Linked DNA regions of Homo sapiens. The protein of the gene in region 1 purifies or fractionates together with the protein of each later gene. This does not show direct contact. Each region holds a gene or a part of one and is shown in the gene's direction. Other genes may lie near its edges. The genes, in order: PTPN9, CERT1 and QTRT2.

What was found.
Region 2: the proteins of PTPN9 (region 1) and CERT1 purify together in Homo sapiens (affinity purification with mass spectrometry; one large-scale study listed by BioGRID and IntAct). This does not show direct contact.
Region 3: the proteins of PTPN9 (region 1) and QTRT2 purify together in Homo sapiens (affinity purification with mass spectrometry, with the first as the bait; one large-scale study listed by BioGRID). This does not show direct contact.

The regions. Positions count from the first base shown.
Region 1 is NC_000015.10:75,464,188-75,467,845, reverse strand, and holds part of PTPN9 (tyrosine-protein phosphatase non-receptor type 9), read left to right. Parts: 3' UTR 1-3,658. UniProt on the Homo sapiens protein: Protein-tyrosine phosphatase that could participate in the transfer of hydrophobic ligands or in functions of the Golgi apparatus.
Region 2 is NC_000005.10:75,379,901-75,382,735, reverse strand, and holds part of CERT1 (ceramide transfer protein), read left to right. Parts: intron 1-658; coding exon 659-787; intron 788-1,534; coding exon 1,535-1,664; intron 1,665-2,835. UniProt on the Homo sapiens protein: Shelters ceramides and diacylglycerol lipids inside its START domain and mediates the intracellular trafficking of ceramides and diacylglycerol lipids in a non-vesicular manner.
Region 3 is NC_000003.12:114,066,674-114,070,331, forward strand, and holds part of QTRT2 (queuine tRNA-ribosyltransferase accessory subunit 2), read left to right. Parts: intron 1-1,313; coding exon 1,314-1,390; intron 1,391-3,658. UniProt on the Homo sapiens protein: Non-catalytic subunit of the queuine tRNA-ribosyltransferase (TGT) that catalyzes the base-exchange of a guanine (G) residue with queuine (Q) at position 34 (anticodon wobble position) in tRNAs with GU(N) anticodons (tRNA-Asp, -Asn, -His and -Tyr), resulting in the hypermodified nucleoside queuosine (7-(((4,5-cis-dihydroxy-2-cyclopenten-1-yl)amino)methyl)-7-deazaguanosine).

The DNA.
Region 1 (3,658 bases):
GCCAATTTGGGGAACAGACCTCCACTGTGATTCCATACTCTCTCTTTGCTTTCACTATCCCAGGGATGGGAGGCGGAGGGTAGAGATGAACTCACTGAGCAGCCAGAGCCAAATGCAATCGGTACGAATCTTAGAAGGAAGGAGGGGGAGCCCAGGTATGAGAAAGAAAAAACCACTAAGAAAATACCTCCCTGGGAGGATGAGCTGGGGCCCTTTTTCTTTTGCTGGATGGTTCCTTTATGCAGCTTGGCCCTGTCTACCGAGATGCCCATCTCTTCCTGCCTGCTAGCCTGCTAGACCCTCAAACTGGGTGGGTTCTGTGTCAATAAAAAGCTTCACCCCCTGGCTGAGTGAGGTGGTCCCCTGCAATCACTGTTTGTCCCCTACCCACCCAACCTGTCCCTGCCTGCTCCCAGCCCACTCATCCTTATGTGCTAGGGATAAATCAAGAGTCCTCAGCACTCCACATTCCCAAAAAATCCCAGGAACTCCTAAACCTTCCCCTGTGACAGAAGATGAGGTTGGCAGCTGATCAGACCTCAATAATTTTATACTGTAATAAGCTCTTTGAATGTGTATATTATTATTTTTTACAATCATTTCATTTTGTATTTAATATCAATGGACTGAGTCTGATTCAGAAAATAATTGTAATGTTCATATTCAATATCTTACAGTGATACAGTTTTGTATTTACATATAAATATACCGACATGATCAAAACCCTTTTAGCTTCATCAATTTAGCAGCCTGGGACATGAGGGAGGGGGTCCAGGAGCTGGTCTGGGAGGGATGAGGGAGGCAGGGAGGGACCCAAGCCTTCAGTATCTGAGACTTTGAGTTCTGACACTATGAGTTCACCTTGTCTGTAGGCCATGGCCCTATCTCTGGACAGAGGGACCAGCACCAGTTCAGTGCTTGAGATGTGCTAAGCACTATGCTAGGTGCTTTTCCCCCACCCTGCCTCATTCAAACCTCACAACAATTCAGTGAGATATTATCTTCTCTCCCTTCTCCTGTGCACCCCTTTCTCATTTCTATATAGATGAGGAAGGTGAGGTCCAGAGGGTTACAGTGATTTGCTCTAAAACGAGCTCAAGTTGGTCTGCTTACAAAGCCTGTGGTCTCTTCACTGCATGGAAGATGGAGATCTTGTGTTTGGAGAACAGAGGTTTGTTTAGCTCTCCTTTCAGAGTAAAAAAAGTTCTTAAATTCCAGGTTGTTGTTCTTGTGCCCATGCTTCATGTAGTAGACGCGAAGGGTGACAGGGTTGGTGACTGACTGTCCTAGCTAGGACCTCCTGATGTAGGGTCCTCATGTCTGCAGCGTACCAAAGGGGTTATCATTCTCCCCAGGAGACTCCATATCTATGGGTACATGGTCTTTGTGAGAAGATCTTGAGTCATTTGCATTTATCTCTTAGAAAGAAAGGAACCAGAAGCTTTGTACATGGAAGACCACTCCCCATATCATACCTGTTGGCTGTTGATGGCCTGCCCAGTTGGGGCAGTTGTGGCTGGGAAATATTGGGGTGTTCTTAATAATAGTCATAGCAGCCAATTTACTGGATGCTCACTCTATTCCAGGCACTGTTCAGAGTAATTTCTAGGTATCATCTCATTCACCCTCAACAACCTTTTGAGGTAGGTATTGACAGAAGAAAAAAATTGAGAGACAGGAATGTTAATTTGCTACAGCCAGGATCCCAGACCATCTGACTCCAAAGTATCTTCTTTCACCTCTTACACTAGACTTCCTCTAAGGATCCATCTTCTGATCTGCCAATAAATTTTTATCGAGTTTCTTACCATAATCAGGAGCTCAAGTGTAGAGCAGAAGATTAATCTAGTTCCTTCTCCAGATGAGCCTCCATTCTCTTGGGAGTGCACAAACATAAGAAGTGAACAGAGATTCTTGGAAATCTGAGAAACCAGAGAGGTCAGGGGTTTGGTGGAACATGTAAGAAATGGGATTAATGATAAACGGCCTGGAGGAGGTAACTTTAAATTGTCATTTATTTGAAGAGGCTGTAACCCGACTGCCCTGTGAATTTAAGGTTATGCATGAGTTCCTCATTGCATATCTGAAGACTGGTGAGGTTATCTATCACTTCAGCTCCATAAAATGCTGATTTCTGGGCCCATCCAGTAGGTTGTTAGTGAGTGACAGGATTATCCAGGTTTGGGAACCATAGATTTAGTTCATGTTTCTGACCCTATAGAGAGTTAACAAATTGATGTCTCCTAAATTTTCAGTAAAACTCAGAGGAACTCCTCCCACTGCCATTGTTTGTAGCTTTTACCAGCGTGAACCTACCTGTGTTAGGTGTTAAAGGAGGAGGTAAAGGAAAGGGAAGGCAGAGACGCAACCCAGAATCTGTTTGGCAAGTCAGGGTTCTCATACAGGAGACTTAGTGAACAAAGCAAGAGAAAATGCTCAGGGTCCAAGTGCAGTGGCTTTATGCCTGTAATCCCAGTACTTTGGAAGGCCGAGGTGGGCAGATCACCTGAGGTCAGGAGTTTGAGACCAGCCTGACCAATATGATGAAACCCCATCTCTACTAAAAATATAAAAATTACCCGGGTGTGGTGGTATGTGCTTGTAATCCCAGCTACTCGGGAGGCTGAAATGGGAGAATCACTTGAATCTGGGAGGCAGAGGTTGCAATGAGCCGAGATCGCGCCATTGCACTCTAGCCTGGGCAACAAGAGTAAAACTCCATCTCAAAAAAAATAAATAAATAAAAAAGAAAGACAGTGTTCAGGAAAGAAGAAAACACTGAGCTAAAGCAGGCTTCTGCTTCTGATTTGATGGCTGTTTGTTTCACCTTTCTCTAACATTCCCATGCTATATAATTTTTCAAACATGAGATAATCCCTGTGTCCTTTTTCCCATTGCTCCCTTCATCTTGCCCATCCTCATTGGCTAGGATGGGACTCCTGAGACGAAGGGTGCCCCAGCATCCTCAGCCTCGGAGGCCCACCCTTATCAGTCTTCATGTGACAGTATGCAGGTAAATGACAGAGTAGGACTTGTTCTTGGGAGAATGGACTATTTAGCATCATAGCCCTAGGGAAATTTGGTTCCTTCCCTGAAAGGAATGCTTCCTGTCTCTTGGGACAGACAGACACACATACAAAAACTTTTATAAATCAGAGACCTAGAGGGAATTGGGCCAAGAGGCATTGGCCAAGTAGAAAAGCTTCTCTAGAGTGACCCAGCTCTTTTGTGGTTTTGAGGTCTTACCACTGAACCAAACCCAAGTCCTAGGTTCCCTCTGTAAAAGAAGGGGCTACACTAGATGATCCTACCATGGGTCCTCTGACTGTCAGGGTCCAGTTCTTTGTTAGACAGTGCAAACACCCATAGAGGAGCTATTAGGCCTTTACTTGGGTTGAGTTGGCTCCCACTAGCACTCCCCACTTTTCATTTTTTTTACTTTCAGAGACAGAGTCTCACTCTGTTGCCTAGGTTAGAGGGGAGTGGCATGATCATGGCTCACTGCAGTCTCAACAACTGGGCTCAAGCAGGAACCCAGCTTTTTTTTTTTTTCTCTCTCTCTCTCTAGAGACAGGATCTCACTATGTTGCCCAGGCTGGTCTCGAACTCCAGCCTCAAGCAATCCTCCTGCCTCGGCCTCCCAAAGTGAGAGGATTAC
Region 2 (2,835 bases), on another chromosome or scaffold:
AACAAGGACTAGTCCAGATACATATACGAGATAACCAAAATAAAAGTAACTTAAATAGGATAAAAGGTTTTTTTTCTCATTTAAAGTAGGTAGTCCCATTTATTGAAGACCTAGGCTCCATGTCATTCCCATAGTATATGTTTCCCCTTGCATACCTTAATATTGAAATATTTAATCTAAGTGACTTAGAATTCTTTCTAATGTGATTTGATTCAAATAAGTCTTTTTTCATTAAATCTTTGAATCTAAGTAGAACATAATCATGGAGTATGAGGAGAGAGGAATGGAAAGTTGTTGCTTACTGGGTACAGAGTTTCTGTTTGGGATGATGATAAATTTCAGAGATAGCAATATGGTTACATAACACTGTGAATGTAATTAATGTCCCTGAATTGTACCCTAAAAGTTAGTTAAAATGACAAATTATACGTGTATATATTTTACTGCAATTAAAAAAATAGAACATTATTCCTTTTATTATATTGTTCTGCAAAGCTATTAACTCTGTTCATAATTAATCATTTGGTAGATATCCTCAGATGCTTTCCATTTAAAATTTGAGAGATTTTACCTTCAATTAAGACATTTATTGGCATTACGTTTCTCTTGTTAGTTCCATGTTAGATCTGTTTTTCAAAAGATTTTTACTTCTCCACAGAGGGTGTGGCCTGCTTCTCAGCGAGACGTATTATATCTTTCTGTCATTCGAAAGATACCAGCCTTGACTGAAAATGACCCTGAAACTTGGATAGTTTGTAATTTTTCTGTGGATCATGACAGTGCTCCTGTAAGTACATGTATATAAATGTGTATAATTAAACAATATAAAGCTAAATACACAATGCGGGACAAAAATGATAAACACAGCCCATACACTATACTTGATTTGATAATGGTTCTTAGATTTTATGTTGGATTGACTGCTAGGAACAGTATAGCCCATGTGTTGTCTGAGGGCAACAGTCATGCCTATGAACATTCCACCAGGGCCGTTTACCTTTCCTTCTAATGTTTCGTGAAACAGCCAAAAGGGCAGTACATACACTGGGCAGTAGGCTACTTCCCACAGTTATCTCTTAAGCCGTTATCAACTGCCAGCCAAACCTCTGTGGTTTACCACAATTTAGCTCCATTTACTACTTAAGAGGAAGGGATCCTGGGCAACATGGTTAGACCCCATCTCTATTAAAAAAAATTTTTTTTTTTTTTTTAATTAGCCAGGCCTGGTGATGTGCACCTGTGGTCCCAGCTACTCTGGAGGTTGAGGCGGGAGGATTGCTTTGAGCCCAGGAGTTTGAAGCTGCAGTGAACTATGATGGCACCACTGCACTCCAGAGTGGGCAACAGAGCAAGACCTTGTCCCCAGAAAAAGTGGGTGGGGAGGAATCCTGGTGTCATATCAGCTTGGTGCTTATAAGATTTCACTGGAGATACTTTTAAGAGTTACGATTTTGGTTAACCTAATATAATATTAGACCAGCAGAGTTTACAAAATACTGGGTATCTACTGATGCTTTGTTTTTTGTTTTGGCAGCTAAACAACCGATGTGTCCGTGCCAAAATAAATGTTGCTATGATTTGTCAAACCTTGGTAAGCCCACCAGAGGGAAACCAGGAAATTAGCAGGGACAACATTCTATGCAAGATTACATATGTAGCTAATGGTATGTATTTTATTGTTTTTGCTCTTTGATAATGTGGCTGTTCTTGATCATGACCTATATGACAACAATTTGGACAAATGCCTTTTTAGTTCTTATCCATTAGATTACTAATTTTTAATTTGGAGAAAGGTATATCAGAATTACTAGAGAATCTTTGAAAGTACAGATGTCTGAATTTCACCCTGGAACTACTACTATATGAGTATTTCTGAAGCTAGAGCTGGATAGGAAAATTTTAAAACTTTATCCCTAGGTCACTGTATATACCCTTCTTTTTTTTTTTTTTTTTTTTTTGAGATGGAGTCTCGTTCTGTTGCCCAGGCTGGAGTGCAGTGGTGCAGTCTCAGCTCACTGCAGCCTCCGCCTCCTGGGTTCAAGCGATTCTCTGCCTCTGTAGCTGGGATTACAGGTGCCCACAACCACGCCTGGCTAGTTTTTTGTATTTTTAGTAGAGACGGGGTTTCACCATCTTGGCCAGGCTGGTCTTGAACTCCTGACCTCGTGATCCACCCACCTCGGCCTCCCAAAGTGCTGGGATTACAGGCGTGAGCCACTGCGCTCGACCTAGCCTTCATATTAAGCACCATTTTCTTAGATATTTGCCTCATAGAACAGATTTATTATTAGGAATATAAGCAACAGTGGGGAAGGAAATTAAGAGTTCTTTTACTCATTGTCAGCCTTTTTAGCTTTCTGAATCAATGTTCCCCTAGTCCTTATTAGTTGCTAGTTACATATTTATTTCTCTTTGACATTCATTGTCAGGCTTTTTGTTTTCTGAGTCAGCGTTTCCCTAGTCCTTATTAGTTGCTAGTTACATATATTTGTTTCACTTTGGATAGGTCTTTTCATTGCTTGCTTTGGGTCCTTACTTCACCTGCTTTGCACCTGGAGTAATCATTGCAACCTCTCTCATCAAAAGTCATACCTTCTTTATACAGGGCCATAACTGCTAGTATGTTCAAAGAAACAGTTGTACCTGAGTAAGTTACTATTTCATTATAGTACAGATTTGTGAATAATCTGCCCTAAATAACCTTAAGTGGTGCTATACTAATTTTTGCAGGTAATTTCGGGAACTAAGAACATTGTAGAAAGGTTATAGATGCTTTCTTATTTGCTGTCTGATTATGTCTGATGGATAGTGTTAAGGAATGAAGGGTTGGGACTT
Region 3 (3,658 bases), on another chromosome or scaffold:
TCTTGAGAGAGAAGTTGAGGGGCATTTTAGCTGGGTCAAGGAAGAGTAAAAGTTACCCAGGTTAGGAGTGGGAGCCCAGACAGGTGTGGGGCAGATGCTGCAGGCACTGAGTATCTGACTCAGCGGTGAGAACTTGCATGGGGCATTCGTGAGCTCCAAAGTAGTCTCATCATGCTTGAACCTCAAACATGCAGGGGAGGATGAAGCGTTTGTATATGGCTGTATTCTGATATGTTAATATTATCCTTTATTCCAGAAATAGGATTTTATATGCAGATGTATGCATCTATTTATTTATAGGAAAAGCTTAGCAGTGACAGCTAGAACATCAGTTCTTCTATACACCGCTTTCTCCTAACGCTTTTTCTGGTATCTAGGACTCACTTGAATGAAAATCCTGTTTCCATTGGTTATTCAGTCTTCTGCTTCTGAGAGCAGCTGCATGATGTCCTGTTGGTTATCACAAAGCCCTGTATTTTAGTAGAGGAATTTATGGAATATCATTCTCCTTGACCTGAGCCCAATTTTAATAACCAGCTTTAAAGTATACAAGCATATAATTAAATGAAAATAGCTAATGTAGGCTTTCTAGAGATAATTGTAATAATTGAAATTATGGAAAATAAAGTGAAAAAACTGCAGAGGTTTTACACTTGCTTTTTTTTCACTGGAATCCTGTTTTATTTTCCTTAACGAAAATGTGGGCTAGCATATGATATTTAGGCACATGGTTTACTAAACTTTTTTTGCATTTTTTAAAAAATGATTGTCTTTTTGACTGAAGAACTTAAGAAACTGTCATCGTGAATCAATGAAACTTACTAAGAATGGGATCCATTTGCAGCATCCTATAGCTTCTCTAAAATTCTGCCCCTAGGGACCCATGATATTATTGAGATTTATTATTAGTGAGATCACTTTGTGGGCATATCATTTTATCTTTGCGGTAGCTAGTTCCCCTTGGATGGTACCTGGAATAAGCATATTTGATAGTAAATTCTTTAAGTAAAGTCAAATGAGATCAACATGTCACTAAATACTTTCATTGTATATTGTGCTTTAAGATACATCTTTCCTTTGTAGCAGCTCAGTACCTATTTATTAGACGTGAAGCTTTATATTTCTTTCTTTAGATTAGTAATCTTTTTATACATATTGATAGGCCTTCTCTAATTCCAAGTTCAGATACAACCTATTGACAGTGTTTAGAGTTGCTTTATTCAGCAGTACACATTGCGAAGCTGCTCCCTGCTATAATACAGTGTCATTGTTGATGTAAGCACTTTCAAGGGTTCTTTTTTGTGTTTATACAGGCATGCCAGAATCACTCTTGTACTGCTCCCTGCACGATCCAGTCAGCCCCTGCCCGGCTGGTTATGTAACAAACAAGGTGTGTTTTCAGAAGGGTCTCCAAGGCTGCAGCTTTGTCCCAGGAAGTCAGCCTATGGTGTATCCCTCAGATGCTCAGATCCCACTGTCTGGGATGATCCCTTATACCTTTTCCTTATTTCGATAATTATAGTGGGATGGGATGGTTTATAAGACTTAGAGTAGGGCTGCCTAAGGATGAGGTTAAGATGAAGAACACTGTATCCTCAGCATTTTCATTGTTGCAAAAAAATTTGAGGGTAGAGGAGGGTCAAATACATGCCAAAAAAAGAAATTGCTATGATAGGGGAAAACGATAGTCTTTCGGCGCCATGCTTTGTTGGATTTTTAACAACTTCAGGAAGAGTGGGGAAAGTTGCTGATGAGTATTATCACATGTATAACTATATATAGTAGAATCTCAATATAATATTGTCTGCTGGGTCTACAGCCAGAGATTTTGTCTAGTGAAGAACAGTATCAAAAGCACCTCATTAAAAGTGTTAGGCTGAGAGGTGGCCCCATTGGCATTATCCCTGAGGACAGCATTCTGGCAAAGCTTCAGTGTGTACTGCTACTTTACAAACGCAAATACTTTTCCTGCACTCACTTTATTAATGTCAGCAATATTTATTAATTGTGCCCCTCAGAACACTGTTTTTACTCATTCTCCTGTTTTAAGTTTCTATTTATTTTGTAGTTTGAATTCTAGAGAAAATACTTTGGCTGGGTATGGTGGCTCATGCATGTAATCCCAGCACTTTGGTAGGCCAAGGTGGGTAGATGGCTTGAGCCTCAGGAGTTCGAGATCAGCCTGTCCAACATGGCAAAACCCCATCTCTACTACAGATACAAAAATTAGCCAGGTGTGGTGGCACACGCCTATAATCCCAGCTACTTGGGAGGTGGAGGCAAGAGAATCACTTGAACCTGGGAGGCAGAGGTGGCAGTGAGCCAAAGTCGCACCAGTGCATTGCATTCTAGCCTGGGTGATAGAGCGAGACTCTGTCTCAAAAAAAAAAAAAAATACTTTGACTTCCATTTTCTACCCAAATTGTAAGGGAGAGAGGAATCATTTAACCAGTAATTCTGATGCCTTAGTATAAAATAAAACGACTATATGTTGGCCTGCCATCTATGTCCTTGTTGATCTGAGAAGAGGGATCTGTAGGGTAACCAAAGATAGAATTTTTTTTTCCCTTTTTTTAACTTTTATTTTTGTTTCGGGGGTACGTGTAAACATTGTTACATAGGTAAATTTGTGTCATGGGGGTTTGTTGTACAGATTATTTCATCACTGAGGTATTAAGCCTAGTACCCAATAGTTACCTTTTATCCTTCTCTCCCTCCTTTCACCCTTCACTCACAAGTAGACCCCAGTGTCTGTTGTTCCCTTCTTTGTGTCCATGTGTTCTCATCATTTAGCCCCCACTTATAAGTGAGAACATGTGGTATTTGATTTTCTGTTCCTGCATTTGTTTGCTAGGGACAATGGCCTCCAGTTCCATCTATGTTCCTGCAAAAGACGTGACCTCATTCTTTTTTATGGCTGTATAATATCCCATGGTATATATGTACCACATTTTCTTTATCCAATCTATCATTGATGGACATTTAGGTTGATTGCATGTCTTTGCTATTGTGAATAGTGCTGCAATGTACATTTGCATGCATGTGTCCTTATGGCGGAATGATTTATATTGCTCTGGGTATATGCCCAGTAACGGGATTGCTGGGTTGAATGGTAGTTTTGCTTTTAGCTCAAAGATAGAATATTACTAATATATACTCTCTTGAACTAGGAGATTTAAGTCTTTAATTCTATATCTAACTCAGTCTAGTAAACACTAGATATTAAAAATGTATAGGGCCCTAGACTGTGCTTTTGGGATACATACATGAATTGGGATACTCTAGTCAGACAAATAAAGAATGGTGTAATAAGTGCTATCATTTCTATAAAGAAATAAATACAAATTGATGTAAGAGCATAGAGGAGTGAGTGATCGATTATGTCCAGGAGGTTTGGAGATCAGATTAATATGTGAACTCAGTGTCTCAATGGACACGTAGTATTTTGCCAGGCAAAGAAGTAGAAGTTCCAGCACCTAGAAATAATAAATACTTGAGGTGATGGATACTTAAATACTCTGACATGATTATTACACTTGCCCTATATGTAAGATGTCTCACATGTACCCCATAACATTATACAAATATGTATCAATAAAAAAAAGAAAAAGAAATACGGAACTGTCAGTCAAAAGGAACAGTGTGATCAAAGTCTGTG